Linked DNA regions of Homo sapiens. The protein of the gene in region 4 interacts with the protein of the main gene of each other region in a pairwise test. Each region holds a gene or a part of one and is shown on either strand. Other genes may lie near its edges.

The links.
Region 1: the proteins of TFCP2 (region 4) and ZCCHC12 interact in binary tests that used the Homo sapiens proteins (3 or more experiments, as listed by UniProt).
Region 2: the proteins of TFCP2 (region 4) and ASAP3 interact in binary tests that used the Homo sapiens proteins (3 or more experiments, as listed by UniProt).
Region 3: the proteins of TFCP2 (region 4) and TLK1 interact in binary tests that used the Homo sapiens proteins (3 or more experiments, as listed by UniProt).

The regions. Positions count from the first base shown.
Region 1 is NC_000023.11:118,819,948-118,826,830, reverse strand, and holds the start of ZCCHC12 (zinc finger CCHC domain-containing protein 12), read right to left. Parts: upstream 3,008-6,883; 5' UTR 2,826-3,007; intron 2,493-2,825; 5' UTR 2,441-2,492; intron 2,243-2,440; 5' UTR 2,118-2,242; intron 1,701-2,117; 5' UTR 1,587-1,700; coding exon 378-1,586; 3' UTR 1-377. UniProt on the Homo sapiens protein: Transcriptional coactivator in the bone morphogenetic protein (BMP)-signaling pathway. It positively modulates BMP signaling by interacting with SMAD1 and associating with CBP in the transcription complex.
Region 2 is NC_000001.11:23,481,163-23,488,380, reverse strand, and holds the start of ASAP3 (arf-GAP with SH3 domain, ANK repeat and PH domain-containing protein 3), read left to right. Parts: upstream 1-4,201; 5' UTR 4,202-4,247; coding exon 4,248-4,376; intron 4,377-7,218. UniProt on the Homo sapiens protein: Promotes cell proliferation.
Region 3 is NC_000002.12:171,157,890-171,165,700, reverse strand, and holds the start of TLK1 (serine/threonine-protein kinase tousled-like 1), read left to right. Parts: upstream 1-4,807; 5' UTR 4,808-5,272; coding exon 5,273-5,411; intron 5,412-7,811. UniProt on the Homo sapiens protein: Rapidly and transiently inhibited by phosphorylation following the generation of DNA double-stranded breaks during S-phase. This is cell cycle checkpoint and ATM-pathway dependent and appears to regulate processes involved in chromatin assembly.
Region 4 is NC_000012.12:51,163,126-51,170,148, reverse strand, and holds part of TFCP2 (alpha-globin transcription factor CP2), read left to right. Parts: intron 1-7,023.

The DNA.
Region 1 (6,883 bases), on a different chromosome or scaffold from region 4:
CACTCATCAAAGGGTTGACAATGATTATATAAGGGTGGAGAGATTTGGGTAATTTGTACTTCACTTTTTGTACCTTTTTTATTGTTCAAATATTTAACAATAAATTATACCACTTTCACAAAGAATAAAGCTGTCAAGGAAATGGGCACACACAGAAAACAGACCCGTAGGCTGCAGGGAGAAGGAGCAAGGACAGAGGTCAGGCTATCTCCCTCCAATGTGCTGGTATCCAAGACCCTTTCTACTCCACCCCAAAAGATAGCCGCTTTGTGGATTAATTCATGCAGTTAGAAGTCCCACCCCCACCCCCACCCCAGTTTTCCCACTACTGGATGCTGAATATAGGTAAGGGTTCACTGAAACCTGGGGGTGGTCCCTTACAGTGGCTCAGAGAAGTCATTGTATTCGCCAGGGGCCACTCTTGACCTCTCCATCTCAGTATGGGTCAGCTCCTGGAGAGTGATGATCAAATTCTCAAAAACCTGGGCCTTGTCACTCTCGTTGTCACAGGTTTCTTTTGAGTGGCCTTCCTCACCACAATACGAACAGCGGATTGTGTGTTTTCGCTTCCTGGCTCTACGCATCTCCCCAGGACCGTTATTCTTATAGCCAGAACCACCACTGGTGGAAGGAAACTGAGCCCTGGAATTGTGGGGGGAATCAATGACCAGCACTTCATCCTGAGGTCTGGCCCTGTCTCTGAGGGGAGGGGCACCCCAGGATGGAAGTGGAGGGTCCTGAGACTCCACCAGGATCACATCCTCATCGGAGTCGTCGAGGGTATCATCTATCTCTATCACATTGCAGTCAGCACTGCCGATCACTATCGGTGGGGAGCCCTGAAATGCCACAGGGCTGACTGCCCTCTCCACCATTGACTCAGACCTTTTTGGACGCTTCCGTTTAATAAAAGCATCATCCCAATCCTCTTCCTCCCTTACCATTCTGATTAACTCCAGAAAGTTGGGAAGCCGCTCCTGCTCATTTGCATACATCCTGAGAAAATCCTTAAGTCTGAGTCGGAGGTCCCTACTCAGCTCACCGCCTAAAAGGAGCTGCTGCAAGCGAGTCCGGTTTGCATCTTTCTCAGCTATAATGCCTGCCTGAATAGCGTTCTGGAGCTGCACCTCTAAACGGATCACATAAAGGGAGGCTTTCTCCCCTTGAGCTTGTAGGGTGTTAAAAAATTTACCATGGGCAGTCACACTGCTTTCAGACTCCCCAAACACCAATTTCATGGCTCGCAAGAAATCTGCCACACTTAGGTTAGGGTTGGTCGCCTGAAGCACACGCATGACCTCGCGGGCAGGGCCCCTAAGGGTTTTCATCAAGCGCTTGAGCTTTTCCTCCTCAGACATATTCCAATCTGGCAGGACGCCATTGACTTGGGTCAGCCAGTTTTCAAAGGTTTCTTCCCCTTGGGCTGGCACCACCCTCCCCGAGAACAACTTCATGTTTCTGTCTGCCATGCTGGCCATTATAGGACCGAGACTTCTCCCCAGGGACCTCAGCATGGAATGGGCCCAAGGCGGCAAGGGTGCATTCAGCCGCCGGCTGTTACCGACACGTGCAATGATGCTAGCCATGACTGACGACGATAGGGTATCTGAATATAAGAAGATGCCTAGGCTTTTTAGAAAAGCTTAATCTGCAGGTGGGAGAGGAGAGGAGGTGGCTCTGCCTTCCTATCTCAGCAGGGGCTGTAAAAAAGAAAGGGGGGCTGGTTAATAAGGGAGCGGGCTGCAGCTGCATTCTCTTCCTACCTGAATATCCTGCAGTACATTTTATATTTGCCCACTACCCTAAAAATAATCCTGTAGGAGATTGACACTTACAACCTCCCAGAGCTACCCGATGCCTGCGTGCTAGCAAGGTGCTTTTTGCAGCCACATCCATCCCTCCCACCAGTCCTCCAAGAGGGACGGTAACTGTTGCTTCAAATTCTAGGTGTAGCAGTGTCTGGAGCTGATATTGGGCTCTCCAAATAGAGTACAATGATCGCAGATTTGTGGAAATAAAATAAGATCTCATTAACCTCATGGTCTCTGGTCTCAACCACACCCCCTTCTCAAAGTGCCCCCCACGCCCGTCCCCCTTGTTATTTCTCAGATTCTTACACGAACTCTGAAACAAGAGCGCGTCTTTATTTCACTTCCAGCCTCTGCAACCAGTGCCCTCCGTGAGAAAGCTCCTCTCCGGGGTACGGTCAACCTCTGTCCACAGGGGGTCGCAGATCCGGGTCCTTGAGGTTTCAAGATTGCGCCACAGCGGAGAAGGCCAGAGAAGGGAAGGGTTAGAAGCAGCTTCACCCGTCATCCTGCTACCCACCACCTCCGCTGTTGCCAGGCGAAAAATTCTCTCTGCCCCCTCCTGACTATAAGCCAGAGACCAGCCCCCCACCCTCCAGCATTACATTTCCCCCGGGAAGCCGTCGGCCTACCAGCTCTGCAATCAGCTGCACAGAATTCAAGTTCAGATGCGGCTTTGATGGCCTGCCACGGAGAAAGGGAATAGGAGTTGGACACACCCACCCACATATTCCTCCCAGAAAGAGATGAGGAGATGCAAAGGATGTTCGAAGCAAACAGCTCGAGATTCCTCCCCCCGCTACTCCTCGCCTCTCCTCCCACCCCCAAATCCAGGCAAATCCTACCTAGCCCGCAGTATCCAGGTGAACCCCACCTCCTCCCTCAGCGCAGCCGGGCCACGAGAGTACTCCTACCCCTGCCTCACAGTCACCGATTCTCCAAGCTGGGAGCCGCCCAGTACTGGTGGGTCTTCCCCCACCCCTCTCCCCGCCGGGCAATCACACCCCCATTCTTTACCTGTGCTCCGCTGGTGGACAGCAGATGCTCCCGCGTCGCCAGCTGTGGATTCCGCCTTCTGGTCTCCGCCTTGCAGGCGGCAAAGAACTGAAGCCTCCTTGGCCGCTAAGCGACCCGGGGCTGCCCGAAGGAGCTGCTTCGCAGGGCCGCCCAACCAGGGGTAGCAGAGACGAGGCAGCGCCGTTCCTAAGGCAGCCGCGGCGGCTTTTATCCTCTGCCAGCTGAGACAAAAGAGCGTGACGAGCGGGCTAGTGCGGCCAATCAGCGAAGTGCGGGGGCGGACGCCCCGCACAGCCTTGGGCAGAGGCGAGTTTTCGCCTGAGGGGGCGGGGGCGCAGCAGGCCCGCGGAGCGTCAAGTGCAGCTTGATTAGACCGATGGAGCCAATCTGCCTGGGAATTTGCGACTCTTTCTTCCTCCCCCAACCCGTCCCTTCTCCCTGGGCTCAACTCTGCATCTTAGGCCAGGTGCATTAAACACGAAGTGGGTCCAAAATCAAGTGAATAATAAAAGTTCTTCACCTTGGTATAGGGAAAAGACGGGGAAGAGGGGAAGGGGCGGGAAGAGCATTAGCACGTGCATTGCGGAAACAGGCTTTCACACACATCTCCTCTTTTACTGTGAAAGAAGTAGCAGTATGTCCATTTAACAGAGAGGAGAGCTGGAGAACAAGGCTCTCAACCAATACCCATTCAAGTATGGGGGCAAGACATCAGAGTCATTTGGGGGAGCTTGTTAGAAATGCAGTCTTCTGGCCGGGAATGGTGGCTCACGCCTGAAATCCCAGCACTTTGGGAGGCCGAGGCGGGCGGCTCACGAGGTCAAGAGATCGAGACCATCCTGGCCAACATGTTGAAACCCCGTCTCTACTAAAAAGACAAAAAAAAAAAAAAAAATCAGCTGGGCATGATGGCGCGTGCCTGTAATCCCAGCTACTTGGGAGGCTGAGGCTAGAGAATCTCTCCAACCTGGGAGGCGGAGGTTGCAGTGAACCAAGATCGCACCGCTGCACTTCAGCCTGGCAAGGGAACAAGACTCCCTCTCAAAAAAAAAAAAAAAAAAAAAAAAAAAAAAAAAAAAAGGAAAAGAAAAGAAATGTAGGCTCTGGGCCCCAACTCTGGTGGATTCAGATTTACTAGGACTAGCGGTTGTGATGTGGTTTTGTATTTAGTATTTTTAACCGGCGCTGCGGTTGGTTCTGAGTTGTAGCAAGGTTTGTGAATAAGTAAATGAGCCTGTCTCCAATATCTGTCCACAGGTATCTGTGGTGAAATGCAACTCCAGAGCAGATGTGCCTACCTGGAATCCATGATCTTCCTGAAATTGTATGCAAAGATTTCGGACTCTGTATGAAGCTAAATAATGGCCACCCAAATGTATCAAGTCCTAATCCCTGAAACCTGTAAATGTTACCTTATAAAGTAAAATGGTCTTTGCAGGTGTGATTAAGTTAAGGCTTTTTGACTTAATTTTCCAGGCAGGCTGAAATCTAAACCACAAGTGCCCTTATAAAAGAGGGAGAGTTGGTGCACCAAGAAGAGAAGGCAATGACCAGAGATTAGTGATGTGGCCATAAGCAGAGGAATGCTAGCAGCCACCAGAAACTGGAAGAGGCAAGGAATAAAGCACAGTCCTACTGACACCTTGAATTCAGCCCAGAGAAACAGATGTTAAGCTTCTGGCTTCTAGAACTGTGAGAAATTAAACTTCTCTTGTTTTAAGCCAAGTTTGTGATAATTTGTTACAGTGCTGTTTTAGTCTGTTTGGGGTGCTATGGCAAAATACCATAGACTGGGTGGTTTATAAACAACAGAAATGTATTGCTCATAGTTCTGAAGGTTGGGAAGTCCAACTTCAAGGTGCCAGCAAGGTTGGTTTCTCCTGAGGCTTCTCTCCTTGGCTTGCACATGGCTGCCCTCTTGCTTGGCCATCCTCTCTGTGCATATGTGCCTCTGGGTTCTCTCAGTGTGTCCAAATTTCCTCTTCTTATAAGGACACAAGTCAGATTGGGGCCCACCCTAAGGGCCTCATTTTTACCTTAATAACCTCTTTAAAGGCCCTATCTTTAAATACAGTCACACTCTAAGGTACTGAGGGTTAGGATTACAATGAATTTGGGGGAACATAATTCAGCCTGCAGCACTCCATTTTCCCTTACTTCTGGTTCTGGGAAAGCAAGCCTTCCTTCTCTCATGTAAAGTGTGGTTAAGAGACTCCTGTGGGAACTTTGGGGGGTCAAGACCAAGTGCACTTGGACTGCCCAAGTGCAAAGGAGTTGCTTGTTCTTGACTCCTGATGTTTGGAAGTGAGTGAACAGTCTGATGCTTTTCAGCTGCTGTTAATTTCAGCTTCAGCCTGCCAAGGTACTTTACCTGCTTCTTTCTGCCTTCTTATTTCCAACTCCAATACCTAGAATTCCTTGGAGTAAACAATCTACATTTAAAGACAAAGCACCTTCATCTCAGGGGCATGACCTTTCTCTTGTGGATGGAACACTGGAATGGTGGTGGTGGTGGGTGGAGGATTTTGGAGGTGCAGAGAAGGCAGGTTGCTTACTTCACACAGTCGGGGGTGATGCTGGCAATAGCTTAGGGGTTTTCTTCAGACTCTTGCTTCTGCTCCCCAATACTATGACATCTGACCCTGGCCTCTAAGCAGAATCGTGTTCTACATTTAAATTGGCTTCATCGCCAAATCAGGTGTTCTGCAGTTGGACCTGGTGGCATCAGAAAGGACAAAGACTGTGTCTCAGAGCTGTGCAAAAAATTTTGATTGTGTAAAGTTGCCTGGGTTGCATCATCAGAACCAAGCGGAGGTCTCTTCATATAGGGCTTGGAGGAGCATTTGCTAAACTGGCTCCAGTTGGATACAGAGCATACCTTATCTCTGGCCTCATATTATAGGAGAGGGGTTGGGGGTAAGGGGGCTTCCAATTACAAGAATTCTAGCTCTGGTGGTTCTAAGGAGGCCACATTTCATTTTCCAATTGCAAAACAAAACAAAACAAAAACACACACACAAAAAACCCTTAAAATCCTTAAGATTCAGAGCCAATGCCTTCAGTTGAAAGAATAACTCCCTTTAGTTGCCTTCAACCTCTGTGCCAGGAATTTTCCATCCTTATCTCATGTAAGTGTCTCATCAAACCTATTCAGATAGGCATTGTTATTTCACCAAGGTTTCTGAGAGCATATGGTCACTTCAAACTCGGGCTTCGGCTCAGGGATATCAAAGACTGGATGGGGGTGCTTATGGGAGATGCTGCACATATTAACCTGGCATTCTAAGGGCAGCATCACTCAAAAAAGTTTTCAAAAAGAGGATAAAATAGTTATTTTTAGACAAACAAAACAGAGAGTTTGTAACCAGCAAACCAAGCTAATGGAAATTCTGAAGTATGTACTTCAGGAGGAACATGACCTTAAAAGAAATAAATACAGGAAGGAATGAAGAGCAAAGGAAGTGGTAGTACGTGGGCAATGTAAGAGAACATTGGCAGAAGAAGAAATCAGAAAAACATCTATTCTTCTTTTTAAAAAATAAACTTAATGTATCATACAATCAGAAAAAACGTCAGGAGGGGCTTAAATGGATTTCAACTTTTCTAAGGGCCTGGTATCGTATTGGAAGTTATTTAGGTATTTATTAAATTTATATTCTGATAAGGTAATTATATATCTAGTAATTAATAGTATGTGACTATTAAAATAATAGTAACAGGATGTAAATTTCCAAGCTATCAATAGTAGGGAGGGGAAAAAGTTGAATAATCAACACAAAATTTTCAATTTTTTTTAAATCAAGAAAGAAATATAAATGGGACAAATAAAAGCACAAAATAAAATTAAGCTTTAAACCCAAATATATGAATAATTTTATTAAATGTTTATGATCCACAACATCAAAAACCCCAAGTAATCCCATTTAAAAGTGGGCAAAGGATCTGAATAGACATTTCTCAAAGACATACAAATGGCCAAGAAATATATGAAAAAAATGCTCAACTAATCATCAGGGAAATGCAAATCTAAACCACAGTGACCCCAGTTAGCATGGCTA
Region 2 (7,218 bases), on a different chromosome or scaffold from region 4:
CGGAGGGGAGAACAGTGAAGGGGCTCAATCACAGTGGGGACAGAGAGGCAAGAGATCAGCCTGTGAATGGCAGGAGCAGCAAGACCATGCAGGGCTAGACATCCATGAAAACAAGTTTGGCTTTTATTCAGAGAGCAATGCGGGGGGCACTGAAGAGTTCTAAGTAGAGGAGCAACAGAACAGATATGCAAGATTAGGGGCAGGGAGACCAGCGAGGAAGTGAGAGGTGGCAGTGGTCTGGACTGGGGTTGGCCTGCAGATGGAGAAGGTGGTCTCACTGGTGAGACTAGTGACAAGACTTGTTTGAGGGGAGGTTGGTAGAAGAAGGGAGGAGAGGATGACTCCGAGGGGGTGCATGGTAATGCCTTCCATCAAGACAGGGACAGAAAACAATCTGGTGCAAGGAGTGGGCGTACGAGATGGTGAGTTCAGTTTTGGACCTGTAGAGTTTAAGGTGTCTGTCTGTGAGCCAGTGAAATGAAACTGTCTCATAGGTGGCTGGATACATAGATCTTGAACTAGAGAAGAGTCCAGGCTGGAAATACAGCCTTGGAAGATGTGATTGGCTCAGTAATGGCTCCCAAAGATATCCAGGTCCTAATCCATGGAACCTGTAAATGGCACTTATATAGCAAAAGAGATTTTGCAGGTGTGATTAAATTAAGGATTTTGAGATGGGGAGATTATCCTGGATTATCTGGATAGGCCCTAAATGTAATCACAAATGTCCTTATAAGAGGGAGGCTGAGCACTTTGAGAGGTCCAGGTGGGTGGACCACTTGAGGTCAGGAGTTGGAGACCAGTCTGGCCAACATGATGAAACCCTGTCTGTACTAAAAATACAAAAAATAAAAATATAAGTAAATAAAAAATAAAAATAAAAAATTAGCTGGGTGTGGTGGCATGGGCCTGTAATTCTAGCTACTCAGGAGGCTGAGGCACAAAAATCCCTTGAACCTGTGAAGCAGAGGTTGCAGTGAGCTGAGATCACACCACTGCACTCCAGCCTGGGCGACAGAGAGGCATCACGTCTCAAAAAAAAAAAAAAAAAAAAGAGAGAGGTTGAACTAGCTGGGCGTGGTGTCATGCACCTGCAGTCCCAGCTACTTGGGAGGCTGAGGTGGGAGGATCGCAAAAGCCCAGGAGGTTGAGACTTCAGGGAGCTGTGATCACTCCACTGCTTGGAGTGACAGAATGAGACCCTGCCTCAAAAAAAAAAAAAAAAAAAAAAAAAAAGAGGGGGCCGGGCGCCGTGGCTCATGCCTGTAATCCCAGAACTTTCGGAGGCCGACGCGGGTGGATCTCCTAAGGTCAGGAGTTCGAGGACCAACATTGAGAAACCCCATCTCTACTAAACATACAAAATTAGCCGGGCATAGTGGCGCATGCCTGTAATCCCAGCTACTCTGGAGGCTGAGGCAGGAGAATCGCTGGAACCCGGGAGGCGGAGGTTGTGGTGAGCTGAGATCGCACCATTGCACTTCAGCCTGGGCAACAAGAGTGAAACTCCGTCTCAAAAAAAACAAAAAAAAAACAAAAAGAAGAGGGGTGGGGAGGCTGGGAGAAATTTGATCACAGGGAAGAAGGCAAGTAAGATGCTTGAAGATGCTGCTGCCCTTGAAGGTGGAAGGTGCCATAAGCCAAAGAATGCAAAAACTACAGCTCTCGAAGCTGCAAAAGCAAGAAAACAGATGCTCCCTTATAGCATCCAGAGGAAGTACAGCCCCACTGATACCTTGATTTTAGCCCAGTGAAAGTTATTGCAGACTTGTGACCTCCAGACATGTAAAAGAATAAATGTGGCCAGGCGCAGTGGCTCATGCCTGTAATCCCAGCACTCTGGGAGGCCGAGGTGGGCGGATCACCTGAGGTCAGAAGTTCAAGACCAGCCTGGCCAACACGGCGAAACCCCGTCTCTACTAAAAAATACAAAAATTAGCTGGGTGTGGTGGCACGTGCCTGTAATCCCAGCTACTCGGGAGGCTGAGGGAAGTTATTGGTGATTTGTTATAGTAGCAACAGGAAACTAGTACAGAAGACATCAACATTACCGTTGGGATTGGATGAAGAAATCCAGGAAGGCTGATAGAGTGAGACATGCAGAGGATTTAGCAGAGAGCTCCCAACAACTCCAGCATTTAAGATCCCTGCGGAGGAAGTGCATCTCAGAAAGGGCTCTTGGAACAGCCAGAGGGAGAGGGCCACCAAAGAAAATAGTTCTCCTAGGATTCAGGGGCAAGGGTGTTTCAAGGAGAAGGGAGTGGTTAACATTGTCAGATGCTCCTAAAAGTCAAGCAAGAAAAGTGCCTAAGCTCAGGAGTTTGAGGCTGCCTTGAGCTATGATCATTGCACTGCACTTCAGCCTGGGCGACAGAGTGAGACCTTGTCTCTAAAAATAAATAACAAGAAAAGTGCCTATTTGGTTTCAACAGGAGAAGTTGACCTTGAAAGAACTCTTGGAATAGTTGTCGTCTCTATCAGATGGTACACATTTTTTTCAACTTTTAATTCTTTTTTCTTTCTTTTCTTTTTCTTTTTCTTTTTTTTTTTTTTTGAGACAGGGTCTCACTTTGTCACCCAGGCTGGAGTGCAATGGCAGGATCTCAGCTCACTGCAAACTTGACCTCCCAGGTTTAAGCCATTTTCCTGCCTCAGCCCACCAAGTAGCTGGGACTACAGGCAAGAGCCACCACGCCGGGCTAATTTTTGTATATTTTGTAGAGACAAGGTTTCGCCATGTTGCTCAGGTTGGCCTTGAACTCCTGAACAATCCGCTCACCTCGGCTTCCCAAAGTGCTAAGATTACAGGCATGAGCCATCGCTCCCGTCAACTTTTAATTCTATTACACAGTAGTATATGGTCATTGTATAAAAGTTAGGATATACAGATTCACCAAAAGAAAAGAAAGTTACTCATAATGTCTTCAGCTAGTGCATATCTGTCTTCAGCTAGTGCATAAAATGTTGCTGGTGCAACATTTTAGTGCATATCTTTCCGGATTTTTTCTTTTCTTTTCTTTTCTGTGCGAGAAAAGAAAAGATTCTCTCAATCGCCGCCCTGTGGGGTAAAATACCATGAGGCCATTTTAAGAGGGGGAAATGCAGGCTTAGAGAAGCAAGCAATTTATCCAAAGTAACCAAGATTGGAATCTAGGTTCCTCTGACTCCAAAACCAATGTTCCTTGCTGCGGTGCTTTCCTAGCTTTTTACTTGGAGAACTTTTCCCCAGAGGACCTCAGGCTTCAGAACTAAACCTAAGTGGATTTCTATCCTGAACCCCATCCCTCATCCGCCCCAAAGGATGGTGAGCCAGATTAAGGGGTGAAAGGCAGGAGCAGGAAGAGTAAAGGCGTGGGTGCGATCTATGGTCGGGTAAGAGGGAACTAGTACACGCACGTGTTCGGTTCTTCGCAACATCACAATCAAGCGGGCATCAGGCTTCCCATTGTACAGATAAGGAAACTGAGGTTCCAGAAGAGAAGTAATTTTCCCCAAGTCACACAGCTAGCCAGGGGCCCCGATCCACACATCCCCGGGGCGGCGGGGGTTATCAGGAGGGAGTCTCCGGATGCCTGCAAAGCTGAGGCTGAGAGCTGGGCGTACGCAGCAAAGGAGGGGTGGGGCGATTCGGGGCGGAGCGAGGCAAGGAGATTGGGCGGGACTGGGGAGAGAGGAGGGAAGGGTGGCGGGGGGGTGGTAGGGCAGAAGGGGCGAGGTCATGGGGAACTCGGAACGAATCAGCAGAGGAGGGAGGAAGAGGGAGGGGGCTCTAAGACTCGACGCGGAGATGGAACAGCCTGGGCCGTGCAAGGGAGGAGGATTTGGAAGACCCAGAGCGGGATGAAACGGGACAGAGCCCTGAAGGGGCAGGGATGGGGGAAGGCGGAGGAGTTTCTACTGAGGCCAGGGGTGGGGCATCGCGCCAGGGGGCGGGGTCTGAGGCGGTGAGGGGCTGGGGGCGTGGCCTAGGGGGCCGGCGAGGGGCCGGGGAAGCGGCCTGACGCGGTGCGGGGCCGGGACCGGGGCCGGAGCCTGGACCTTGGCGGTGGAGGAAGGCGAGGAGCCGGGGGCGGGGCCGTCCCAGCTGAGGAGCGGAGAGCGGCTGGAGGGTCGGGGGCGGGGCGTGCGGAGGGGCGGGGCGTGTGGAGGCCGGGACGGCGCCCCCGGCCGGCGGTGAGGCCGGCTCAGCGCGGAGCAGCTCAGTGCCCCCCGCGCCCCGCTCCGGCAGCTCCACGCTCGCGCCCGCCATGCCGGAGCAGTTCAGCGTCGCCGAGTTCCTGGCCGTCACCGCGGAGGACCTCAGCTCCCCGGCTGGGGCCGCCGCCTTCGCCGCCAAGATGCCCCGGTACCGAGGGGCGGCGCTGGCGCGGGAGGAGGTGAGGGGGCCGAGGCGGGAGGGGTCGGGGGTCGGCGCCGGGCCTGGCCTTGACCTCCACAGGCGTGTCGCACCCGAGCTGCGATGGCCCTTCACCGCGCCCCGAAACCTGCCCCCTCCCTAGGTCTGGGAGGACCGAGCGCATCTCCAACAGCTGCGTCCTCACCGTCGAGGCGGGGGAAGGCCCGAGGGACCGTTTTGGGGGGCCTCGAGGTCTCTTCGATGACAAACTCCACAGGTCGGGGGACGTACCCCAAGTGCCCCGCGTGACCGCCTCATCACATATGTGTTTGCCTAGCGCCTTCCAGCCTCAGTTTGCGTTTTCATCTTCGGAGCCCCACAAGTGTGCCCCCCGAGTCACTCCCCTTCTGAGAGGCAGGCTTCCCGCCTCAGTCCTGAACTTTCTTCCCCCCGGCTGCAGAGAGGCCCCCTCCCGCTTGCGGCTGGTTCGGAGATTTGGCCCGCGTTTGTGGAATGAATGCGGATGGGAAGGCGCCAGGAGCCGGGGTTCACCTTGGCCGGGCTGTTGGCAAGTTTATCGTCTCCTCTCCCCTCCCCTCTCCTCTTTGTCTTTCCCAGCAAAGCGTCCCAGGCCTTTTCTTTCGGTCTTGCAGGCTGCCCCACCCCATTCCCATGCTCTTCGGAGTTCCTTCCATTCCTCTTCTCTGAACCTGCTGCAGCTTTCCGCAGCTCCTCTGCAAAGAATATTCTAGGACAGACACCCCGTGGCCTTGGTCCAACGGAGAATAATGTGTTTTTGCAGCTCCCCATCCAAAGGATGCCCTCAATTTGGGTGGCATTTTGGACCTCAGCAACGGCTCTAGCCTTCCACCCTTCACCTTAAGTGTACTAGGCACCCACTGCGTGGCAGATACAAAGCTCAGTAGTTCATAACACCCTGCGCCAGTGTCAGGAAATCTGTCCTCTTCTCTCTTGTCAGGGTGACCCTCCATCTCGGAGTCTGTTTGTATCACTTTGTAAGGGTGATAGAGGATTGTGGAAGGAGCATCGACTTTGGGGAAGGCAGACCTTTTTTCTTTCCTTTTTTTTTTTTGAGACGGAGTCTCGCTGTGTCGCCCAGGCTGGAGTGCAGTGACGCGATCTTGGCTCAATGCAAACTCCGCCTCCCAGGTTCACACCATTCTCCTGCCTCAGCCTCCCGAGTAGCTGGGACTACAGGCTCCCGCCACTACGCCTGGCTAATTTTTTTTTTGTATTTTTAGTAGAGACGGGGTTTCACCGTGTTAGCCAGGATGGTCTCGATCTCCTGACCTCATGATCCGCCCGTCTCGGCCTCCCAAAGTGCTGGGATTACAGGCGTGAGCCACCGCGCCGGCCAAGGCAGACCTTTTTTCAAACGCTGGCTCTGCAGTTTGCCATTTGGGTGAACGTGGGCATGTGACCTGTCCTGTCATCTGTGGAATGGGGGTAATAATGTGTACCTCACATGAGACAATGCATATAAAGCATGCATCTTTTTTTTGGAGACAGAGTCTTGCTCTGTCTCCCAGGCTGGAGTACAGTGGTGCGATCTCAGCTGACTGCAATCTCTGCCTCCCGGGTTCAAGCAATTCTCATTCCTCAGCCTCCCAAGCAGCTGGAATTACAGGCATGCTCCACCACACCCGGCTAATATTTGTATTTTTAGTAGAGACAGGGTTTCACCATGTTGGTCAGGCTGTTCTTGAACTCCTGAGCTCAGGCAGTCTATCCGCCTTGGCCTCTCAAAGTACTAGGATTATAGGTGTGAGCCGCTGCACTGGCCCATGCCTCTTGATAAATGGAATGATTATCGTCAGATTAATCGGCAGATCTCTTTAGACAGTGATTGGGTCTCTTTTGTCTTCATTTGTCTCACAGAGCCTCACCTTGTCTCATTTGTCTCACGGAGCCTAGCCTACTACTTTGCACATAGTAGGGGTACATGTTTTATTAAAATAAGAAGCAGCCGGTCAGATTTGGCTTCCTTCCTTGGGCAGAGTCCACTGCCTGTGGATGTGGGTTATATTTTACTGTGGGGCTCACAGGGAAACACTGCTGTCCAGCCCATCCTTTGGAGAGCTTCCTGAGATTTGTCTTCATAGCCTCACATTTCATGACCCAGAATAGCTCAGTGCCATCCACATTCTTAGGGATTTCATGGTTCATCCTCCTCCCCAGGTTGTTCATTAGAATCTTAGAGCAGGAGAAGGGGCTCCAATATGAACCTTATCCATGGACAGAAATGCCCATTTATGCCCATACATCTGGCCTTGCCTGGCTGTGTAAGTGTAAGCACTGTGTGTTGGGGGAGGGACCCTTAGAATGGGTCTGGAGGCCACAGCAGGCTCTGTTCAGGGCTCAGCTTTGCCCCAGTTCAGGCAAGACAAAACCCATCCTCCTTTGCCTTCAGATTTTTGGTTTGGTGCACGTAGAGGTTCATTGTTACAACAGAAAGGCTTGCGGCACCCAAACACAGCTTTTCTCTTCAGCATCTCAGGGCCCAAAAAGTTAGAGTCTGAACTTTGGATTAGACTTCCCTGAGGTTTCCTGTTTGGTTTTGCATTTGCATTTATATTTTGCGATTATATTGTGTTTACATATAGTTTGATGCTGCAATTTTTTCCCCCAGTTCTGGGCTTGACTAACCCACCCCCAGGCTTGTAGCTCTATTTGACTGAATCAAAATGCAACTGATTCTTAAGTCAAGTCTTCCAGTTCTGACTGGTTTCCTGGGAGTAACTAGGGACCCTGTCCTGGGACTCGCAGCCCTTTTGTACAGTCCTGCTGGGAAGGACCCTGGGCAGATCACAGGAAACTAGAATGTCAGGGCTGAGGGACCCTTTTAAGATAGAGACCAGCTA
Region 3 (7,811 bases), on a different chromosome or scaffold from region 4:
GACCTTGTGATCCACCCGCCTCGGCCTCCCAAAATGCTGGGATTACAGGCGTGAGCCACAGCCCCCAGCCTCTGGGCTAATTTCTTGTTGGTTTGGGGGAAAGGGGCTTAGGTGGCTCAGACATTAATTTTTTCCCTTGAATTTAGAAGTTAAGAGTATAAAATGCATTTTAGTATGTCTATAATATTGGATGCTTTGTAAATATTTTTACTATGGTATAGAAATAGAAAATAGTCTATTAAACATAGTTATAAATTATGATCATCCTATAGATCGGGGCTCAGACCTTCACCTTTTGCATCTGACCTTCCATCAGGAGACCCTTGAAGACTTCTCCTGCATTGCCCTATCACCTGAAACCCAGCTCATTGATCGTCATCATTCATTAATTCCACAACATTGACAGAGCCCTTGGTCTGTACTAGAGGCTTAAGGCCCTGTCCTCATGGAGCACTCAGAACGTTCTCTCTAGTCTCTTCCTGATTCTTTCTAGGCAGGTTTACTACCTTTTACTTGCTCAGTTCATTTCTGTGTTCTCAAGCTGGCTTTCCCTCTGGGAATATTCCTCCATGGAAGATTGCCAGAAAGCTTCCAATGATCTCTTCTTGCTCTTGAGATTTCTTCTTCCCTACAGAGTGGCACGTGTCTCTTTCTGTCTGAATCTGAACTCTTCTGACTTTTCTATATTTTTTCCTATTGTGTAATCTATCACTCTAGCCATCTAATCTTTTTCTTTTTTTTAGATAGAGGTGGGGTCTCACTCTGTTGCCCAGGCTAGTCTAGAACTCCTAGGCTCAAGTGATCCTCCTGCCTTAACCTCCCAAAGTGCTGGGATTACAGGCGTGAGGCACCGTGCCCAGTCTTGATCTATTTTTTTATCGGACATTTTTTGAATGCCCATATACTAGCAAATTTCAAGGTGTGGAGGAGCTTCTCCTTGCCATTTAAAAGTTTTCATTTATTTGACATAATCATTTTATAAAATTATGTATTTGCACAACTTATGTCCAGAGGCCTTCTTTATGCTTCAATTACTTCAATTACTTAAAACGTATTTATTGAACTTTTTCTGAATATAAAAAGAAATACATGATTTGTTTTACAAAATTTGGAAAAGCATACATAAAGAAATAATAACTATGTGATCTCACAGCCCAAGGCTAGTTATTATTAACTTTTTGGGGCACATCCTTCCAGTTTTTTTTCTTTTTAAGAGATGGGGTCTCATCATGTCGCCCAGGCTAGTCTTGAACTCTTGTGTTCAAGTGATCCTCCCACCTTGGCCTCCTGAGTACTTCCAGTGTTTTTGATGCATACTTAGGAATAAATCCAGATCATATCCATTTTTTCACTTACTATAGTGTGAAAATGTTATCTTCTCTGGTATTCTTTGAAGACATGATTTTAAATAATGGCATGACATTCCATTTTCAGGCTAAGCTGCAGTTTGTTTAAATAACTCCCCATTGCCAGTAAAAGCCTTTTTTTTAAAGGTTGGTGAGTGCTGTCTTATCAAAAACCACATGAAGACAGGAATCAAACATTTAATTGTCCTTCTAAGGAAGTATCCACAACAAAAATATAACTAAAGTAAGTTGATCATGTATATGCTGTAATCCTCTAGTTATCATTAAAAATAAACATAGCCAATCTGCATTAAATATAACATGAGTTAGGGTGGACGTGGTGGCTCATGCCTGTAACCCTAGCACTTTAAGAGGCCAAGGCAGGTGTACTGCCTGAGCTCAGGAGTTTGAGACCACCCTGGGCAACATGGTGAAACCCCATCTCTACTAAAATACAAAAAATTAGCCGGGCATTGTGATAGGCATCTGCAGTCCCAGCTACTCAGGAGGCTGAGGCATGAGACTTCCTTGAATCTGGGAAGCAGAGGTTGCAGTGAGCCAAGATTGCACCACTGCACTCCAGCCTGGGTGACAATTAAAAAAAAAAAAAGTACTATGAATTGGCATAAGGATAACTTAAAAACTTGAAGCTCTGGAGAAGGTTGGGAGAAAGATAACCTACCATCATCAAACCTTTTTGGTTGGGCTTTGTTTACCATTTTTGAGAGGAACTGAGCTCTGTACAGTCTCAGAATTGGTAGGAGCTTTAAAAATCACTCAGTGACTCTAACCTCTTTCTCGTAGATGAGGAAATTGAATCAAGTTACCTGCTGAGACTAATACTCAGGTCTCTTAACTTCCTTCCTGTCCCATGTTCTTTTCACCGCAATCTGCTGACTAAGCTTACTCTTAAAAATACAGAAAGAGCATACATTTATCAACATGTCATTACAGAAACTCTGTTCCTCTTATAGTGCATGTATTTAGGTATAAAAATCGAATGGCAAGATCCTGGGTATGTATCCAAGGGAAAGGAAAGCCTATGTCCACAGAAAGACTTGTACATGAATGTTCTTAGCAGCATTATTCGTAACAGCCAAAAAGTGAAAACAATGCAAATGTCCATCAATAGTTTAATGGATAAACAAGTGTGGTACACTCATTCAGTGTAATACTACTTAAAAATAAAAACAAACTATTGATAATGCAACAATGTGGACGAATCTCTCAAAAAAATAATGTCGAGTGAAAGAAGCCAGACAAGGCCTGGCACGGTGGCTCAGGCCTGTAATCCCAGCACTTTGGGAGGCCAAGGTGGGCGGATCACCTGAGGTCAGGAGATTGAGACCAGCCTGGCCAACATGGTGAAACCCCATCTCTACTAAAAATACAAAGTTAGCTGGATGTAGTGGCACGTGCCTGTAATTCCAGCTACTCAGGAGGTTGAGGCAGGAGAATCATTTGAACCCGGGAGGCGGAGGCTGCAGTGAGCCGAGATGGCACTCCAGCCTGGGCAAAACAGAGTAAGACTCTGTCTCAAAAACAAAAAACAAAAAACAAAACCAAAGCCAGACAAGAGTACAAATTGACTGTATGGCCTGCATTTATCTAAAATTCTATGAAATGGAAAGCTACCCATATGACAGAAAGATCTGTGGTTGGAGAGAATGGAAGTAGTGTGGAGGAGGAACCACAAAGAGGAAACTTTGGAGGGTGATAGATACATTCACCATCTTCCTTGTAGAAGTGGTTTCAGGGAGGTATACACATCAAAACTTATCAAATTGTACACTTTATTTTTATTTTTTTGAGACAGAGTCTAGGAGTCTCGCTCTGTCGCCCAGGCTGGAGTGCAACGTTGCGATCTAGGCTTACCGCAACTTCTGCCTCCCGGGTTCAAGCGATTCTCCTGCCTCAGCCTCCCGAGTAGCTGGGACTTCAGGCGCGTGCCGCTACACCCGGCTAATTTTTGTATTTTAAGTAGAGATGGGGTTTCACCATGTTGGCCAGGCTGGTCTCAAACTCCTGACCTCGTGATCCGCCCACCTCGGCCTCCCAAAGTGCTGGGGTTACAGGCGTGAGCCACCGCACCTGGCCAATAATTGTACACTTTAAATATGTGCAGTTTATTTTGTCAATTATACCTCAATAAAGTTGTTTGTGAGATGTCCCTCTTAAGTTTGAAAAGCAGACAAGACTAAAAACTCACTGAAGTATCTAAAGCACAAGGCAACTACAATTACTTCTGGAGATAACTGACAATCAAGGTTCTTTTCTAGTATGATAGTTTATCTGAACAAAACATTACTATGAGAAATGCGAAGTCATAAAAATAAAAAATAGAAACGACATTTTTGTCCCCCTGGTAATCATGCCATTTCCTCTTGTCTGTGCAGTAGCGCTATATCATAATCTTTTTAGTGCTCTATTCAATTTGGTTTTCTAAAGAGAGAAATAACCTTGTTGTACTTTTCCTGAACTAGAGTGCTCTTTTATGTACAAGAAGCCCAATCCCTGGTGTGAGTATACTTGTGTGGGTCTGTAGAAAGCTACACTCTATCTATAAATTTTAGCAAATGCTGTTATTTATTTTGGGATTTTTGTAGTCGGGACTCAGCGGAGACACTAGAAACAAATTATAAGTTTCTAGAAACCATACCTTCTGCAAGATGAACGCTGTATAGTTTTCCTAAATATGTGATTCAGTAATCACATTTTTCATTTAGATTTTCCACTTACTGTTTTAAAACAAAGAATTGCTATACCATACAGTCTACAAAACTGGTAATTTTCAATTTCCTCATTAAAGATTCTTCACTCTTTTTTAGAAAACACGAGAAAGTTTTATTTCCCAACTCTCCCACTACCCATGTTTATTTTCATAGCTCTTTTATTCGGTCATTATTCCCATTCTGCAGACGGGGAGGCGCACATACGTTTTTCTGCACAGTACAGAGGGGCAAGAAAGAAGGAACTCTCAACTTTTCAGTTCCATTTTGAGAAACGATCACATTGAACTCCCGAGAAGCGGCAGCTGAGCGAGAGCAGCAGCATTTCTCCCCGTGTTGGGTGTGGGTCAGGAGAGAGGCGCGCTTCCGCGGGAGACAGGGGGAGTCAGGTGGCAGCGGCGCTGGAGCCCGAGCGGCGCGGCGGGGGCGCGCCTCCCTCCGGCCGGCGCGGGGACGCTGCCCCCGCGCACGCGAGTCCGGCAACCCCGGGCTCCCGCGCCGCGCGGCGATCCGCGGGTGCGGCAGGGGCGCCCCGGCGCTCTAGTCTCTTCCCTCGCGCGCTCGCTCCTTCCCCATGCCCCCACCCCCCAGCCCCTGGCAGGTCCCTCCCCCAAGCCTGCTCCCGCGGCCGCCGCTGCCGCCGCCGCCGCCGCCGCCGCTACCGGAGGCGCAGGAGCCTCGCGATAGTGTTTGCACAGGCGGCGCGTGACGCCGCCGCCGCCTGTAACTGATGCAGAGGTTACCCCACCGCCTCAGCCGCCACCCACAGCCCGCCGCCGCCGCCTCCCGGGCGACGCCGGGGGCCGACGCACTGCAGAGGTGCCGGCAGGTTCCGCCCGCGGAAGTGTCCTCGGCCGGCGCAGCCCGCGCTCCGCCCGCGCTCCGACCCCGGCCCGGCTGGCACCCCCTCGACGCCTCCGCCGCCGCGCTCCTTTCCTCCTCCTCTCCTCTGGCGCGCCCGCTCGCTCCCTCGCTTCTCCCCCTTTCCCTCCTCCCTGTCCCCTCTCCTTCCCTCACCTCTTTCCTCCCCACCTCCCCTCTTCTCGGTTTCCTCCCCCATCCCCTTGACTCTCCCCTCCCAGCCCTCGCTCTCTCGCTCGCCCTCAGCGCGGCCCCCGCCATGACGGAGGCGGGTGCCGGTGCCGTTGCCGCCGCTGCCGTCGCAGGGGGGGAGTCGGGTTCCCAGAAAGTAGCTTGATGAGTGTCCAAAGTAGCAGTGGAAGTTTGGAGGGGCCGCCATCTTGGTCCCAGCTCTCCACGTCTCCAACCCCGGGCTCGGCGGCGGCGGCCAGGTCCCTGCTGAATCACACGCCGCCATCCGGGAGGCCCAGGGAAGGTAAGCACCGCCGCGCCCGCGCCCGCTCGCGGGCCTCCTCTCCCGCGCCGCGGACCCCCGCGCCCCCCCCCCGCCCCCCCCGCCCCGGGGCTTCTCCGCCAGACCCTGGGGTGGGGGATGGTGGCGAGGTGGACGCGAGGCCGCCCGGCTCCCCGGCTCTGGGGAGGTAGTGCCCTGGCTGTGGATGGTGGTTCGCGGGTGGCGGAGGAGACGGACGAGGGGGTGCGCGCTGGTGGGGACGGGGCGAGGCGCATAGACTCGCCTGGGGTTCCTGGGAGCCAGTCCTGCGAGGGTGGGAAGCCTCCCCCCAGACGCGAGCCCCTTTCTGCTCCATTTGCCAGTACACTCAGTACTCTTAACCTCCTGGCCTCCGGTCTCTGGTGGGTTTTCCCTCCCGCTGGAGCCTTCGTCCTCGAGCCCCCTCCCCTTCTCCCGCGCACTCCTCCCATAGAGGCGGTCCCCACTTTGCGAGCTTTGCTGCCCGGGACCTGGAGGATGCCCCTCGCTTGCTGGGTTTCTCCTTTGGGGAGAGACGCTGAAATTATCTGGGCAGACTTTGATCCCCTGTGTGGCCCCCTAGAGCAATTTAAACGACAGACTGACTCGTGGGCAGGCTTTTAAAACCGCCCCTCCAGATGGTTGCAACTTTCTCTCCTTCGCCGTTGCTTCCTGCGTGTTTGTGCGTTATATTCTCTGCTGCAAGTAGGCTACTGTTCTTCTGTGACAGGGTCGTGGGTTTTGTGGGAAATATCTGCGTAAAGGTTATTGCAAACACGCACCAAATCGGTTACAATTGTTTTCTAAGTTTTCTGGCTTCTTGCAAGCAAGTGGGCTGCCACCAGATGTAGCAGTTACACAGCTTGTAAGGCACCGGCGTGCTTTTGACTAAAATTTCAACTTGCTGTATCTAAGTATACAACATAAAATGAAATTTGGGAGAAAACACATTTATGGGGAATGAATAAATGTGCATGGAATGTCTTTTAACGCTCTTTAGTCTGGAAAAAGCTTAGCGGTATTCATCCGCAATTGGTAGACGGGCTGTTCACTCCTAGTTGTCGCACACGAGGAGATAGGCACATTTTCAAATGTCTGGAAGTTCAACCGTCTAGTGAATGTTTTAAAGAAATCAAGAGCTTCGATTTATGTAGGAATCGGTGCGAGTACTTTATTTTGAAAATATCTGTCGATATTTGCTAGTCAGAGCCTTGACAAGTGTTAATCAAGTGTTTTGTGCCCTGAATCCAGTGGTTCAGGCATAGCATTCTTTGTCATTTTGTTCCTGTGAGCATGTGTGAAAGTGACAATAGGCTTAAAGATTGGCATGAATATGCTCTAGAAAATTCACGGAAAGCTTTGATTTATGGGATCCATTAAACATGCGGAATACATTGACAGACGTTTCCCCCTTTCATCTTATCCCAACGCTGAGCTTTCATTGTTAGAATATAGAAGTTTATTTATTAAATGACTAGAAATTTAGTATATCTGGTGATTCTTTTGCACTTGAAAATTTTTAAATGAACGGTTTAAAATGTATTTCATAGAGAAGTTGATGCTTGCTTTTAGCATGCTTTTACTTTTGTTTGTAGTTTCATTAAGATGTTTAATGTTAGTGTTATGAGTTTAAAAAGACCATTTTATTGTTTCTTGTTTAAGGCTATATCATCATTCATTCATTCATTCATTCATTCGTTTCTCGAATATTTATTGAGCCATTACTGTGAGCCAGGCCGTGAACTGGATACTGAGGACATAGTGTTGAATTATCTCTTGATATCTGTTATCAGTATTGGGAATTTGGGAGACAAAACATCTAGATTGTGAGTTTCTGAGGTTACTTCAACTTAAAAACATTCTGCACTTTTCCTGATGTTTGAAAATTTGGAGGGGTTGGAATCATTTAGCTTGAACTTCCAAATAACCATAATTTTTTCCGGCAGTTTAGATTACAGTGGGTTTTTATGTAACCTAAAGTAGTGAGTTTCTGTTAATTCATGAAATCATAGGACAGGCTTTTGTGAAAGTTACACTTCACACCGAGTACCTGTATAGCTACAGGGGGATATTTCTTTTTGACCAACCAGCATGCAAGTTGAAACTATTAATCCTCTCTAGGGTTATATTCATTTTGAAGCTTGGCGATGTGTTCTCAGATTTCACTAACGCTAACAGGAATATGAAGCCCTGAGTGTCAAAATGGAGATGATTTCTATTGAGCGAAATCTCAGTTTTTATTTTAAGTGTTTAGCACCTTTTCCAGGTATACATGTTAGTACATTATATAAATTGATGAAGTTTTAGAAAGCTTTTTAACTGCTAGTTACTGCTAGTAAGAACCGTTAATATTAATGGAACTTGAATGTATTGTATGTATCACGGTGAAAACTAACTTTGTTT
Region 4 (7,023 bases):
GTAAGTGCCCTGACCCTGAACTTACACATGAGCGTCTGACATAATATTTGACAATTTTTTATGCTGTTACTTGTGTAAAGATATTCACAGCAAAAAGTTTGATTTTGTTTAGGTTACCAGAGGTTAGGCTGGAAATAATTAAATATAACTGTACTCATTATAAAAATAGTTAACATCACCAGCAAACATTTGTTAATCTACTAGGTGCAATACCATATGCTCTTGATACTATGCCATCTTACATTTAATTAAGAGTTCTTTACAAATCATACTCTGTGTTTTTCACAGACATTAGAATGGCTTGCATATTTACACATTTAGTTTTTTCAACATCAAAATCAAATGCACAAGTTTCAAACATCACTTTGAGTTCTTGAGAGTATAGTGTGCCAACATTTTAAGTACTTTCTTCTTTTCTTTTCTTTTTGAGACGGGTCCTGTTCTGTCACTCAGGCTGGGGTGCAGTGGCACCATCTCGGCTCAGTAGAACTTCCATCTCCCGGGCTCAAGTGATCCTCTCACTTCAGCCTTCCGAGTAGCTGAGACTATAGGCATATAACACTACGCCTGGCTTTTTTGTTTTTTTCATCCTTTTTTTCATGTGTTAGGTACTTGTCACTATTCTCTTGACTTTTTTTTTTTCTTTTTGAGATGGAGTCTCGCTCTGTTGCCCAGGCTGGAATTCAGTGGTGTGATCTTAGCTCACTGCAACCTCTGTCTCCCGGGTTCAAGCGATTCTCCTGCCTCAGCCTCCCGAGTAGCTGGCACTACAGGCGCACGCCATCATGCCCGGCTAATTTTTGTAATTTTAGTAGAGATGGGGTTTCACCATATTGGCCAGGCTGGTCTTGAACTCCTGACCTCAGGTGATCCACCCGTCTCAGCCTCCCAAAGTGCTGGGGGATTACAGGCGTGAGCCACTGCACCCAGCTCTCTTGACTTATACACATTTAATCTATTCTATTAATTTGTGTTAATTAGATATTGGTCTTCAAATTTTAGTATTCATAAGAGTCACCTGGACAGCTTATTAAAAATACACTTGGGGACCAGGTGTGGTGGCTCACGCCTGTAATCCAAACACTTTGGGAGACTGAGGTGGGTGGATCCCCTGAGGTCAGGAGTTTGAGACCAGCCTGGCCAACGTGGTGAAACCCTGTCTCTACCAACAATACAAAAATTAGTTGGGCGTGGTGGTGCATGCCTGTAATCCCAGCTACTTGGGAGGCTGAGGCAGGAGACTTGCATGAACCCGGGAGGCGGAAGTTGCAATGAGCTGAGACTGTGCCACTGCACTACAGCCTGGGCAACAGAGCCAGACTGCATCTCAAAAAAAAAATGAAATAAAAATAAAAATACAGTTGGGGATAGGCATGGTGGCTCGTGCCTGTAATCCCAGCACTTTGGGAGGCCAAGGTGGGAGGACTGCTTGAGCTCAAGAGTTTTCATCAGCCTGGGCAACATAGGGAGACCCTCTCTCTACTAAAAATAAAAAAATTAGCTGAGTATGGTGGTGCCTGCCCCTAGTCCCAGCTACTCCAGAGGCTGAGATGGGAGGATCGTTTGAGCCCAGGAGGTCAAGGCTGCAGTGAGCTGTGATTGTGCCTCTGCACTCCAGCTTGGGTGACAGGGTGAGACCCTGTCTCAAAAAAACAAAAACCAAACCAAAACAAAACACCAGTTTACAGGGTCCCATCTCCAGTGATTGGGGCACAGACTAGAAATCTGATTATTTATTCATTAGAGTTGAGGTCTTGCTTTGTCGCCAAGGCTGGAGTGTAGTGGCTCAATCACAGCTCACTGCTGCCTCGAATTCCTGAGCTCAAGCAGTCCTCCCAAGTAGCTGTCCCCTAGGCTGGAGTGCACCTGGGGGTACAGTCATGAGATACCATGTCTGGCTGATTTTTAAATGTTTTGCAGAGACAGGGTCTCCCTATGTTGACCAGGCTGTTCTGGAACTCCTGGGCTCAAACAGTTCTTCCCCCTTGGCCTCCCAAAGTGCCGGGATTATAGGTGTGAGCCACTGTGCCCAGCCCTGATTTTTATTTTTTTTTAATTTTAATTTTGTCTTATTATTTATGTTTTTGGAGGCGACATCTCACTCTTGTCACCCAAGCTAGAGTGCAGTGGCGTGATTGTAGCTCATTGCAGCCTCAAACTCCTGGGCTCAAGTGATCTTCCTGCTGCAGCCTCCTGACTGGCTAGGACTACAGGGTCACACCACCACACCTGGCCAGTTTTTCTACTTTTTGTAGAGACTAGATCTTGCTGTGTTGCTCAGGCTGATCTCTAACTCCCGACCTTAAGAGATCCTCCCACCTTGGCCTCCCAAATTGCTGTAATTACACATGTCAGCCGCGGTTCCCAGGCCTATTTCTCCTTTTAATAAGACCTTGGATCTTAGTGTGCCACCCTCCAGCAATAATCTTTGCCAACTGGTTCTAAGAGTCAATCAGGCCAGGCATGGTGGTGCACACCTGTAATCCCAGCACTTTGGGAGGCTGAGGCAGGCAGATCACCTTGAGGTCAGGAGTTCAAGACCAGCCTGGCCAACATGGTAAAACCCTGTCTCTACTGAAAATACAAAAATTAGCTGGGCATGATGGTGCACACCTGTAATCTCAGCTACTCGGGAGGCTGAGGCAAGAGAATGACTTAAACCTGGGAGGCGGAGGTTGCAGTGAGCCAAGATCGAGCCACTGCACTCCAGCCTAGGGGACAAAAGCGAGACTGTCTCAAAAAAAAAAAATGTCAATCAGTCTGACGTTCTACATCTTTATTAGGGAAAATACTCTCTTTGACAAGCAATTTGTTTTATAAAATATCTTCTCTGACACATTTGTTTTACCCTAGTTTATTTTCTGTTGCATCTTATGATGGTTTCATCTTCAAATCTATTAATTTGTATTTTATAAAGAGTCATCTTAATTAGATTTATTTAATCCTTATTAGTGGTCCTTTTATTATTCTTTTTTTCTTATATTTTTATTGTGGCACAAACTTTATACTAAAAGGAAAAGGAGATTCATTGTGAATACATGATAAGTGAAGGAGCCAGTCACAAAAGACCACATACATATGATTCCATTTCTATGACATTTCTAGAATGGGCAGATCTGTAGAGAAAATAAATTAGTGGTTGACTAGAACTATGGAGGAGGAGGGAATGGAGAGGGACTACTAGTGGGAATGGAGTTTCTTTTCAGGGTGTTAAAAATGTTCTAAAATTGTTTGTGATGATGGTTATGATATCAAACTAGGTTCGTCCTGCCCACGTGCAGCAAGCCAATCACTATGATGATGGGTTTTGCAAAAGAGACAAGATTTTATTCATAGGGCTGCTGAATGAGGAGACAGGAGAGCAAATCCCAAATCTGGCACCCTGAAAATAGGGCTTGGCAGTATTTGTGGGGTAGGACGCAGGGTGGTCTAAAGCATGGGGAAAGGTGATTGGCAGGTAGGAAAGGTGAGGTAATCAAGGTTTCTGCACAAGCGTAATTGAGCTACATTGCTCTTCATAGGCCATGTGCAGAAAATGGCAGTGTTAACATGATCTAAGTGTGGAGTTTTTGTCCCTCTGACATGAAAAGGTCACTTTTTGGGCACTCATGCAGGTCCAGTTGAGGGATTGGTGGTCTCAACTGGGTAAGAGCTGTCCCCTAATTCCTGAAAAACAACTTTAAGCATCTGTTAATATAGTGACCCACAGTCAGAGATGTCATCTTTTTTTTCTTTCCTTTTTTTTTCTTTTGAGGCAGGGTCATGCTATGTTGCCCAGGCTGTTCACAGATGTTAACTTTTATTTATTTATTATTTATTATTATTATTATTTTTTGAGATGGAGTTTTCGATCTTGTTGCCCAGGCTGGAGTGCAATGGCATGGTCTCAGCTCACTGCAACTGCCTCCCAGCTTCAAGCGATTCTCCTGCCTCAGCCTCCCAAGTAGCTGGGATTACAGGCACATACCACCACACCCAGCTAATTTTTGTATTTTTAGTAGAGACGGGGTTTCACCATGTTAGCCAGGCTGGTCTCAAACTCCTGACCTCAGGTGATCCACCTGCCTTGGCCTCCCAAAGTGCTGGGATTACAGATGTGAGCCACCATGCCTGGCCAACTTCTTTGTTTGTTTGTTTGAGATGGGGTCTCACTCTGTTGCCCAGGCTGGAGTGCAGTGGCATGTTCATGGCTCACTGCAGCTTCGAACTCCCGGGGATCAAGCAGTCCTGCCTCAGCCTCCTGAGTAGCTGGGACTACAGGCATGTGCCACCATGCCCTACTCAGAGTTTTTCATAAATGCCGTTTTAGTGTTAAATAAGTTTCCTTCTATTCCTAGTTTGCTGAATATGTGTGTATGTGTGTGTTTATTGTGGTAAAATACACATAACATAAAATTCTATCATTTTAACCCTTTAAAAATGTCCAGATCAGTGTAATTAAGTACATTTACGTTGTTGTACAACTGTCACCATGATCTGTCTTCAGAACTTTTTCATCCCAAAGTGAAATGCTGTACCTATTAAACACTAACTTCCCATCTCCCCCCACTCCAGCCTCTGGCAACCACCATTCTACTTTCTGTGTCTATGAATTTGACTACTCTAAAAACCTCATATACGTGGGATCATATATTTGTCCTTTTGTGACTGACTTATTCACTTAGCATAATGTCTTTGAACTTTTGCTGAGTGTTTTTTTTTTTAATCTTAAAAGGGTATTGAATTTTTTCAAATATCTTTTCTGTGTCTGTTGAGATGATAATGTGGTGTATCACATTGATTGATTTCCTTATGTTGAACCACTCTTGCATTCCTGGGATAAATGTTGGTCATGGTATATAATCTTTTTAATGTACTGTTGGATCCAGTTTGCAGTTTGCTGTTATTTTCTTGAGGATTTTTATTTCTATATTCATATGGGATATTGGTTTATAGTTTTCTTATCATGTCTTTTTTTTAAGAGACCAAGTCTCCCTATGTTGCCCAGGCTGGTCTTGAACTCCTGGACTCAAGGGATCTTCCTGCCTCAGCCTCCCAAAGTGCTAGGATTACAGGTGTGAGCCACCATGCCCAGCCTGAATTTTATCGTATCTTTTTCTGGCTTTGGTGTCAGGGTGATGTTGGCCTCATAGAACGTTAGGAAGTGTTCCATTCTTTTCTGTTTTTTGAAGGAGTTCGAGTAGGATTGGTGTTAATTCTTTGAATATTTGGTAGAATTTGCCAATGCAGCCATGTGATACTGGACTTTTCTTTGTTGGGAGGTTTTTGTTTATCAATTCAATCTCTTATTATAGGTTTGTTGAGACTTTTAATTTTTTCTGAGTCAGTTTTGGTACTTTAATGTTTCTAAAAATTTGTCTCTTTTATCTAAATTATCTAATATGCTGGTTTAGTCATTCACAGTATTCTCTTATAATCCTTTCATTTATATAAAATTAGTAGTAATATCCCCAGCTTCATTTCTGATTTTATTTATTTTCATTTCATCTTCTTTCTTTTTCTCCCAGTCAGTCTGACAAGAGTTTGTTAATTACTTTTTTTTTTTTTTTTTCGAGATGGAGTCTTGCTGTGTCACCCAGGCTGGAGTGCAGTGGCATGATCTCAGCTCACTGCAACCTCCACCTCCCAGGTTCAAGCAATTCTCCTGCCTCAGCCTCTCCAGTAGCTGGGATTACAGGTGCCTGCCACCGTGCCCAGCTAATTTTTGTATTTTTAGTAGAGACAGGGTTTTACCATGTTGACCAGGCTGGTCTTGAACTCCTGACCTTGTGATCTGCCCGCCTCGGCCTCCCAAAGTGCTGGGATTACAGGCGTGAGCCACCATACCCGGCCAAGAGTTTGTAAATTCTGTTGATCTTTTTAAATAACAAATTTTTGGTTTCGTTGATTCTACTATTTTTATTCTTCTTGGTTTTTGTGGTTGTTGTTGTTTGTTTGTTTTTGAGAAATGGGGCCGTGCTCTGTTACCCAGGCTGGAATGATGCAGTGGTGTGATCATATGCACTGCAACCTCAAACTGCTGGGCTCAAGTGATCCTCCTACCTCAGCCTCCTGAGTAACTGAGACTACAGGCATGCATCACCAAACCCAGCTAATTTTTTTTTTAATTTCATAGAGATGGGGTCTCACTGTCTTGCCCAGGCCTTGAACTCCTGGCCTCAAGCGATCCTCCTGCCTCAGCCTCCCAAAGCGCTGGGATTACAGGTGTGAGGTACTGCACCTGCCTTATTTTTATTCTTTATTTCACTTATCTCTGCTCTAAACATTGTTATTCCCTCCCTTTGGTTGGGTCCAGTTTGTGCTTCTTTTTCTAGTTCCTTAAGGTCTGAAGTTAGAGTATTGACTTAAGGTCTTTCTTTTTTTTATCTCTGTTTTTATTTTTATTTTTTGTAGAGATGGGGGTTTCACTATGGTGCCCAGGCTTGTCTTGAGCTCATGGGCTCAAGCGATTCTCCCACCTCAGCTTCCCAAAGTGTTGGGATTAAAGGCATGAGCCACCATACCCTGCCTTCTTTCTAATATTTTATTATTGTTATTATTATTTATTTATTTATTTTTTGAGACAGAGTCTCGCTCTGTTGCCTGGGCTGGAGTACAGTGGCGTGATCTTGGCTCACTGCAACCTCTGCCTCCCAAGTTCAAGCGATTCTCCTGCCTCAGCCTCCCAAGTAGCTGGGATTACAGACATACACCACCACACCCAGCTAATTTTTGTATTTTTAGTAGAGACAGGGTTTTGCCACATTGGTCAGGCTGGTCTTGAACTCCCAACTTCAGGTGATCTGTCCGCCTTGGCCTCCCAAAGTGCTGGGATTATAGGCGTGAGCCACCGCGCCCGGCCTTATTACTATTATTTTTTAAGACAGGGTCTTGCTCTGTTGCCCAGGCTGGGGTGCAGTGGCACCATCACAGCTTTCACTTTCCAGATTCAGGCAATCCTCCCACCTCAGTCTCCCAAGTAGCTGGGACCATAGGCTCGTGCCACCATGCCTAGCTAATTTTTGTATTTTTTGAAGAGACAGG